3 linked regions of the Homo sapiens genome follow. The protein of the gene in region 1 purifies or fractionates together with the protein of each later gene. This does not show direct contact. Each region holds a gene or a part of one and is shown in the gene's direction. Other genes may lie near its edges. The genes, in order: CTNND2, THUMPD3 and NUDT12.

Region 1 (3,662 bases):
CTGCTTCTTTATTCTTCAGAGGCAGAGAAAGTGAAAAGCTGGAGAGAGGCCAGCAGTGTTACATTAATTAAGTTCCCTTTGCCTGAAAGGAAATATCAGAATAGAGAAGAAGTGTTCCCCATTGGCATGGTTTATGAAGAATTCTAGTTGATAGAATTCTGGATATAGTAGCTTTCACAGTACTTTGCTTGGTAGTTGAGCTCTTTAAATATTTCATGGTATTTTGACACTACATCAAGAGTTATCAAGGTAGCGTCTAATGCCCTGGTTGATTTGTAGCAACTATGGTCCATGAAATTCAGCAGATTTATGTATAGCCAACTTTAAAATAACTTACCCTTGGCGTTCTTCCCCTATTTTTCATGTTATTCTTTAACTGCCAATAATTGGATCGCTTTGTAAGTGGTGAGAATTAGACATAAAAAAGATGATGTTAAAATCTGACTTCCCAAACCATATATAAGTGATCTAGGCTAGCTATTTTCCACAGCTTTTTCTGCCTCAGTATAAATAATTAGATTTTGGTGGCTGTTTGATGTTTTGCAATTAATAGGAGAAATCATGGACACAGTAAAGAAAGAAGATAAACATTGCTTTTCTAAATAGATACGATGTTGTATTTAAGTCTAAGCATGACTACTCAATCTAAAAATGCTCACTTTTTAAAACAAATTTTATCCTCTGTCACATATTTTATTTGGACTTTCAAATATTAGACTAATATAGCAGTCATTACCTTCAACAGTATACAATAATGTAATTTCCAGAAAGAGCAACCTCTTTGGTAGCTCCAAATGTAAAAGAGCCACAGTTCAATCTCTCATCTCTAACACAGTCTTCACTGGTGTGGAGCATTGTTCTTGGGGTCATGGGGAAACCAAATAAGGAAGAAGAATCCTCCAGAAAGACAGACAGGTGTTATATAAAAAGTCTCAGAGATAGTACAAATTGTCTCATTAACCCAGGACATGGAAGGTTGATGCAGGAAGGCTGGGGCTTGTAGCATCTGGATCAGATTATTTGTGTTGCTTAACTCAGGTTGAAAAAGAGTAATGTTAAATTCATAGCAGGTGCATAGATATATTATGGCACCTCTAGCCAAAGAAATATGCAATTATGAATTATAGTTTCAGAGTAGCTAATTATATGAGAACTATTCATAATACTAAAGCTAAGAAGATAATCAAGGCAAATAACTATATTGAATGTGATACCCAGCACACATACCCACTCCCAAATGTGAGAACACTGAGAACACAGTGTTTATGTCAGGGTTTCAAGAGTTTTGTTCTTTATATATTACTTTTCCACTAAATATATCATAGTTTAATATATATATTACATTATGCAGAAGAAAAGCATGCCTTTCCATTCTTGAAAAGAATAGTATATATTTATTTTGGGGTGAAGTTCATTAATTAGCTGAATGCATGACTTAAAGTTAACAAAGGTCATTCATCATGGAATGTAGATTACACAGATTTTGATCAGCCATACTTACATTTTCTCGCCTTTAAATTTGAGATTTGTTTGTTTTCAAAAGTAGTGCATGCTCATTGAAAATTCAAAAATACAGAAATGATTAAAAGAAGTTAAAATTCATGCATGGTTGCAAGCCCCAGAAATGACCATATTTTTAGCAGAGATATCAAGCGATACACATTTTTAAATTTAGAAAACATTGCTCATATTCTGTTTAGTTACCTATTAACATCTCATGTAATTAGTATTTATTTTTAGTGTCTGTTTTCCATACCTTTATATAACATTATTTACTTACATCACTCTGTTATTGGAGATTGATGACATTTTCATTTTTGGTAGTTATATTTAATGCTGTAATTAAGATCCTAATAACTAAATAGTTGTCATCAGGTTATTTACTCTAGATTACTTCCTAGAACTGGATGTTTTCAAGGTTGTTGATATATGTTGTTCATTTGTCTTCCAGGAAGATTATATAATTTATATTTCTCTCAGCAAGGCAGGAGTGTACAAATTTTCCCATGATTTCAACAACACTGGGTGTTGTAATGAGAAAAATAAAACTTCTAATTACATAGGAGAAATATTGTGTTTTTCTCTAATTCATTTGCTTCTCTATTAATATTCCTGAGGTTAAATATTTTCTAATTTGTTGGTGTCTACGTCTAATTTTTTTGTGAATTATCTTTTTATATCTTATACACATTTCTCAATTTATCTATTTTCCTTTTTTAAAATTGATTTATATTGTTTGTCTATAGTAATTATGTCACTCTGTCATGTCTTAACAGTTTATATATCATTTTATTGGTTCCTATTTTGGGAGCATAATTCTAAAGCTTGAAGTTAAACTTACTCACTTGTCCTACAGGAGTTCTTCTTTAAGGAAACATTTTACTGCTTGCTGATTTCGTGTGTCCCAGTAGTAAATACAGCAGTGGAGCAAATGGTTGAGAAAATAGCTTCAAAGTTGTACCCCAACTGACTGAGTTCATATCCCAACTTCATCATTTTCTAAGTGAACGGTTATTTTACTACTAAGTGTCATAACACAGGGGAAACAATAATTCCTGTGTCTTCAGGTTGTTGCGACGGTGAATTAAGAGACCATGGACTTAAAATACATAGCAGAGTATGTGGTATATTCACTATTACAACACACATTAGCTGTTTCTACTGCGAAATAATACAGATGCCAGATGCTTTTCTGTAATTCTGGCGTTTGCTTTTCCCACATGAAGCATAAACGCACCTGCACAGACTCCAGGATCACTGTGTGAAAAGGCAAGGTGTTTGTGGCAGTCCGGGGCTCACAGGTGCAGTGCTTTGTGTGTGGTTCTGGCACTTGACTGTGTGTTCTTCAGGGATGTCTCATTTCTCAAGTTCAAGTTCGTTGGGAAGAGCCAGGACACTGTTTTTAGGCAAACACATGATTTTCTACCTTCTCCCCCTGCTCTCAGGCACACACTCCTTCTCTCTGGTCACATAGGACCATGCTTCTCCCCAGCCCCACCCCATACTGGTAATCTATCTTTTAAAATAATTGATCCACAAATCATAGGATAGTAGTAGGCATGTAACAAACACTTAGTTCATCATTTGGGGCAAAAATGGTTTCTGAACCAAGGTTTCTTTGCTTGCTTTGGGTTGGTTTTGGGTACAGACACTGCAGCACCCTGGAGGGACCACTGCCTTAGGATGCCAAGTTCTGGGATCTAAATCGTGCTTGGCACTTGCCTTCTCTTGTGACTTTGCATCTTTGCCTATTTTGTCATTTGTTCCTTGGGATAAAAACTCACAGGGCTTTGTTGAATGTGCTGTGATAATTTAGGTGAAAATGCTTTGGGAAGCTTAATCATAATAAACATTTAAGTATAAAATATATTCTCTGGAACTTTTGATGCACTTCAAAAATACAGTAATGGTGGGGGGTAAGAGTTAGAGTCAAAAGATTTTCTTGCCTATAAAACTAAATCTCTGAATTTTGTTACTAATGTGTTTATAAAATGCCCACTTCCATAGTGGTTGTAAAGATATTGCTACATTTCATGCTATTGGCTATTGCCTAAAGGAAGAATTCTCCTTTATCCATCCGTAGAAGTAATTCTTGTTGTTTCTTCATACCACTTCAAATATTGTAAGTTATACAAAATTGGCCCAAAAAGTTTCTTGTATTT
Region 2 (3,662 bases), on another chromosome or scaffold:
TCTAGTATTTCTTGAGGATTGAATTCACCAGAAAGAATACTGTTCAACTTAAGAAATTCTCTAAGTATCTCAGTATTTATTTACTTCAGCATATAGCAGATGTTTAACCTTTGGTGATGAAACATAAAAGAGATTTTCCTTTTAATTTGCATCAAAAATTCTTGCTCAGAAGTAATTAGGACTCACTCAAGGTAAAAAGTGAAGGTCAGAAAACTGCAATCTCACTATCATAAAGCTGATATATCTCATTACCACATAAGCAGTGAGAGGGCAAGGATTGTTGTCTATTTTTTTTTCCACCAATATATCCCACGCTCTTAGTGTCTGGCATATAGTAGGTACCCAGAAAATATCTGTGGGATGAATTGGTAAGCAAATGTTTTCCATCCAATATTTTAGCCAATACCCTCAGCAGCTTTGTGAAGATAGGCACTATTATTATCCTCATTAATCATTAGGCTTAGGACACATAAATAATTTCCCCAGGGCCACTCAGCTAGTAATCACAGAACTGGAGCTCAAATCCCCTGCTTTTAACCATTGCAGCATACAGTGTACCCTAGAAAGTCATCGAGGAAATATGATACAGCCCACCTGAGTGGCTTCACCTTTCTCTTCTCCCACAAAAGACGTGTTGCCCACAAAACACTTCATGCTTCTCTCTTTCCATCTGCCCTTTTTCCCTTTCTCTAGGGGAAAGCTGATTAGTAACCAAAGAGATGAGAAACTAGGGAGATGGGACATTTTAAAAATACAAAATATAGTTAGTAGCTGCTTTAAAACTATCATTCCTAATTTTTTAAATACTTAATTGTTGATAGCTTGTGCTGTTCAAAAGCTTTCTCAGAAATGTGTTTCTTTTTTTTTCACCCAGGTTCATTGTCTGAGATCAGTTGATAACTTATTTGTGGTGGTTCAGGAGTTTCAAGATTACCAGTTCAAACAAACAAAGGTGAGCTATCCTAAACATGGTGGCTGATTTTTGGCTGTCTTCCACAAAGAGATTATTTCCATTTTTCATAGTCTGTGAAAGTTTAGCATTACTGTAGTCTTTGTAATAGAGAATACTGGGAGGCTTTTACAGTAAAATCTAGAGTTTTGCTGACAGTCTATCCCAAAAGATGTTTTTTGAAAATTAGTATTGAAAACCATTAAAGTTTATAAGAAAGAAGAAAACACCTTGTTTTACTTGTAAGAGATATAAACCTTAGATTTGCTTTGCTTTTACATATATTTAGTTCCAAAAGAGAATTGCTTCCAGAACATGAACCAAAGAACAAGTGACAGTTTGTGTCTTCTACAAATAACACTTCCTCACCATCCTGCTTTTGCTCTGCTTTCTTCTCTTTCTTCATTTTTTGAAATAAAGCCAAAATAACATCTAAATACTCCTTCAGTTGTTAGGACAACAGCTTTGTCTCCAATATGTATTTAGCATCTGAATCCTAAATATTCAGCTGCTGCCTAAGCTGAAGGTTGAAAATAGATTGCAGCAAGGCTTTAGGTTTTTTCCACACTGCTTTTTGGTTAGGTTTCTAGAGTTAACCGCTTAAAAACATTTTTCTATCAGTTTTACGTATCTTAGAAATAATCTTTTTAAAAACAACTGTGATACGCTACCTAATTGTCTAACTTTTATTTATTGGCAAGCATGTTGATTTCCAAAACGTTATTCAAAAACGAGTCAAAGTTGTATGAACCCTCAGCCTAGAAAACAATAAGACCAGACCTAAAAGAAGTCAGACTTAAGGGCCTGGCGTGGTGGCTCACACCTGTAATCCCAGCACTTTGGGAGGCCGAGGCGGGTGGATCATGAGGTCAGGAGATCGAGACCATCCTGGCTAACACGGTGAAACCCCGTCTCTACTAAAAATATAAAAAATTAGCCGGGCGTAGTGGTGGGCGCCTGTAGTCCCAGCTACTCAGGAGGCTGAGGCAGGAGAATGGCGTGAACCCGGGAGGCGGAGCTGGCAGTGAGCAGAGATCACACCACTGCACTCCAGCCTGGGCGACAGAGCGAGACTCCATCTCAAAAAAAAAAGTCAGACTGAAAATAGATAAAAATTGTATTAAGTAAAAATCTAACTTTTAGAAAAGCTTAAAGCAATTCTAATGAGTTCTCTTAAGTATTCAGATGATAATCATGAATTTATTAGTCCCCACCCCCCTCTTTTAAAAAATATTGAGATGGGGTCTCACTATGTTGCCCAGGCTGGTCTCAAACTTCTGGGCTCAAGTGATCCTCCCACTTAAGCCTCCCAAAGTGCTGGGATTACAGGTGTAAGCCATTGCACCTGGCCCCCATTCCCCACCTCCACCCGCGCATATTTTTTTTTTTTTTTTTTTTGAGACAGAGTCTTGCTCTGTTGCCTAGGCTGGAGTGCAGTGGCACAATCTCAGCCTACTGCAACCTCTGCCACCTGGGTTCAAGCGATTCTCCTGCCTCAGCCTCCCGAGTAGCTGGGACTATAGGCATATGCCACCATGCCCGGCTAATTTTTGTATTTTTAGTAGAGACGGGGTTTCAGCATCTTGGCCAGGCTGGTCTTGAACTCCTGACCTCGTGATCCACCTGTCTTGGCCTCTCAAAGTGCTGGGGTTACAGGCGTAAGCCACCGCGCCTGGCCTCCATCTGCCTTTTTAAAAGTATGAACAAATCTGTGATTTATATGGGTTTTTAAAGACTAGTTAATACATGTATTTGGAGCAAACTTGTAAAGACTGAATGGATATAGAGTGAAAAGTAAGTCTTTGTTCCTATATCCTCATGCTATGCAGCTCCCTCCCTGGAGGCAACAACTGTTAGCAATTTCTTGGGTATTATTCTGGAGATATTTTACGAATAAATGTATTTTATTTACACAAATGAAAGCATAGCATACATACTTTTCTGCGCTATGCTTTTTTTTCATATACAAGTTGAGTATCCCTTATCTGAAATACTCGGGACCAGAAATGTTTTGGATTTTTGTTTGTTTGTTTTTTGAAATATTCTGGGTTGGGCATGGTGGCTCACACCTGTAATCCCAGCACTTTGGGAAGCCAAAGCAGGTGAATCATGAGGTCAGGAGTTTGAGAGCAGCATGGCCAAGGTGGTGAAACACCATCTCTACTAAAAATACAAAAATTAGCCGGGTGCGGTGGCGGGCTTCTGTAATTCCAGCTACTCGGGAGGCTGAGGCAGGAGAATCACTTGAACCCGGGAGGCAGAAGTTGCAGTGAGCCGAGATCACGCCACTGCACTCTAGTCTGGGCAACAGAGCAAGACTCCGTCTCAAAAAAAAAAAAAAAAAAAAAAAAGAAAGAAATACTCTGAGGGTGGAACCTATGTATAAATAAATCCAAGATTCATTTGTTTCATATATACGTTATACGTATAGCTTGACGGTAATTTTATATGATTTTTAAAATAATTTATACATGAAACAAAGTTTGTGTACACTGAACCATCAGAAAGCAAAGGTGTCACTATCTCAGCTACCTGTGTGGCATCATGTTGGCACTTCAAAAAAATTTTAGGTTTTGGATTTTGGACTTTGAGATTAGGAATGTTCAACCTATATGTTGGAGATCCTGGCAGTATCATTGCTGGAATTGGCTGCGTATACTCCATTGTTTGGCTGTATAATAATTTAACCAGTCCCATTTTAGGGCATGAGGGT
Region 3 (2,379 bases), about 92 Mb from region 1:
AATTGCTTAGAAAAAGTATTAAATTTCATCTTATGTAGTTTGTAATCTTGTAATGACCTGAAAAGAGTTACCTGCAATAATTGTTTGACAACATAATAAAAAAAAGTTTCAGAATTTTAGTGTGAAAGAGCTATTTGTAAAAATCATGTAATTTATAACTATTTCGTGGACAATATATACATGAGATAAGATATAAAGTGTTTGCATAGTGTTTAACCAGTATTAGGTATTGGATATTTTTAGATGGTATCATTATTTTTAAAATGTAACTGACAAATTTGTACCTTAAAAAAACGAAAAGTTTATTGTTGGCATTTTGATATTCTATATGTGGTCATGTACTTTAAAAAAATTGTTTTCTTCAATTACAGTCTAGTTTTAGGCTTCTGCTTTCTGATTATTTGCATTGGGTTTCTGTCCAAAGTGATTTCCAGATGTTTGAACCATTCAGGACACAAAGTGTCCCGGGCATGTTCATCAGCAACTTGTTCTTTTGCTCCATTTCATTAGGAGAGACAATAGAAGATGCTGTTAGGAGAGAAGTAGAAGAGGAAAGTGGAGTCAAAGTTGGCCATGTTCAGTATGTTGCTTGTCAACCATGGCCAATGCCTTCCTCCTTAATGATTGGTTGCTTAGCTCTAGCAGTGTCTACAGAAATTAAAGTTGACAAGAATGAAATAGAGGATGCCCGCTGGTTCACTAGAGAACAGGTAAAGTTCAATTTAATTTCCTTCTTCTATTGATTGTTCCCTGACTGTATTGGTTTGGTCACAGAGCAAGGATGCATATTTTCAGCAAGTTGAATGATGCCTTTGGCCCTCTCATTATGCATGGATTACATGGTAATTAGTAATTCCATACAGGAGGAGTATGTTTCACTAATGTGATCTATATTAACTTATTCTATGAGATTTTTCTAGTAGAGATGATTCTGTACCATTTCGAGTTTCAGATTCCATTCCTTCACATAAATAATAATACCTATCAGTGGGTTTAGAAAAACATTAATTCATAGATGAGAAACAGGAATATTCTTATACATTTTATATTTTAGTTTATAACATTAAAACAAGTAGCTCTCAAAAAACATCAGTAAGTGCTTAAAATTTTCAGAAAGTTTTTATTCATTTTAAAATGTACTTAAGGACAAGAATGACATAACTGTATAATAAACATACACTTAAAATAACTTTCTAAAATGTCATTCCTAAATAATATATTAAAAGATAAATTACTCATCTGACCTGAAATTCTTTCTGACTTTGCCTGCATAAAATTAATTTTATTCTATGCTTAATCCTAAAAGATGGAAATTAGATTATTGCTTATGAATTTTATAAAAAAGAATCTGTTTCAAAAGTTGGCTTTGCTTAGAAATTAAGTGTGGAGCGTACATTTTGCTTTTTCGTGATGTCATTTTCATAAGGGAATGTGTCTTTCTGGAACATTTTAGAAACTGAATCACTTACTCAGTGAAGCAATTAAAAATGCTGTCCTAAATTTTGCATGTTGAGGCGGGGCGTGGTGGCTTATACCTGTAATCCCAGAACTTTGGAAGGCCAAGGCAGGAAGCTTGATTGAGCCCAGGAGTTTGAGACTAGCCTGGGCAACATAGGGAGACCCTGTCTCTACAGATAATTTTTAAAAAGTTAGCCAGGTGCACCTATGGTACCAGCTACTTGGGAGGCTGTGGCAGGAGGATCGCCTGAGCCCAGGAAGTCAAAGCTGCAATGAGCCATGATCCCACCACTGCAACTCCAGTCTGGGTGGCAGAGTGCAAGACCTTGTTTCCAAAAAAAAAAAAACTTTGCATGTAAATATGGATGTTGTCACTTTCTACTGTTGTTATTCACTGTAAAACTCATCACATTTTAATTGAATTATGTAAACATGGGAATAGTATTTAAATATGACAGCTTTGAAATCCTAATGCATTCTATTATGGTGTGTTTTAGGTCCTGGATGTTCTGACCAAAGGGAAGCAGCAGGCATTCTTTGTGCCACCAAGCCGAGCTATTGCACATCAATTAATCAAACACTGGATTAGAATAAATCCTAATCTCTAAATCTAAGAACTAAGCTTTGAGTATTATTTAATAATTTCTAATAACACTCATTCCTCAAGTGATATTAGAGATTATTCAGTACTCTTGAGAGTGTCACAACACAAAATACGATGTTGGGTTTTCGAAATATTTTCAAAGTGTTCTGTCTTAATCACAAATTCATATTTTTACACATTTTTACAATATTGCCTCAGATTATGTTAAATTTGGGTCAGTCTTCTCTGAACTTTTTCTCTCTTGGTTTCTTTTCTTCCTTCACAGTTTTATCTCACAAAACCATTTTTCTAATAAGAGACATCATGTTGGAAAGATG

What was found.
Region 2: the proteins of CTNND2 (region 1) and THUMPD3 purify together in Homo sapiens (affinity purification with mass spectrometry; one large-scale study listed by BioGRID and IntAct). This does not show direct contact.
Region 3: the proteins of CTNND2 (region 1) and NUDT12 purify together in Homo sapiens (affinity purification with mass spectrometry; one large-scale study listed by BioGRID and IntAct). This does not show direct contact.

Annotation. Positions count from the first base shown.
Region 1 is NC_000005.10:11,894,313-11,897,974, reverse strand, and holds part of CTNND2 (catenin delta-2), read left to right. Parts: intron 1-3,662. UniProt on the Homo sapiens protein: Has a critical role in neuronal development, particularly in the formation and/or maintenance of dendritic spines and synapses. Involved in the regulation of Wnt signaling.
Region 2 is NC_000003.12:9,366,034-9,369,695, forward strand, and holds part of THUMPD3 (tRNA (guanine(6)-N(2))-methyltransferase THUMP3), read left to right. Parts: intron 1-874; coding exon 875-952; intron 953-3,662. UniProt on the Homo sapiens protein: Catalytic subunit of the THUMPD3-TRM112 methyltransferase complex, that specifically mediates the S-adenosyl-L-methionine-dependent N(2)-methylation of guanosine nucleotide at position 6 (m2G6) in tRNAs.
Region 3 is NC_000005.10:103,550,548-103,552,926, reverse strand, and holds part of NUDT12 (NAD-capped RNA hydrolase NUDT12), read left to right. Parts: intron 1-510; coding exon 511-710; intron 711-1,955; coding exon 1,956-2,066; 3' UTR 2,067-2,379. UniProt on the Homo sapiens protein: mRNA decapping enzyme that specifically removes the nicotinamide adenine dinucleotide (NAD) cap from a subset of mRNAs by hydrolyzing the diphosphate linkage to produce nicotinamide mononucleotide (NMN) and 5' monophosphate mRNA.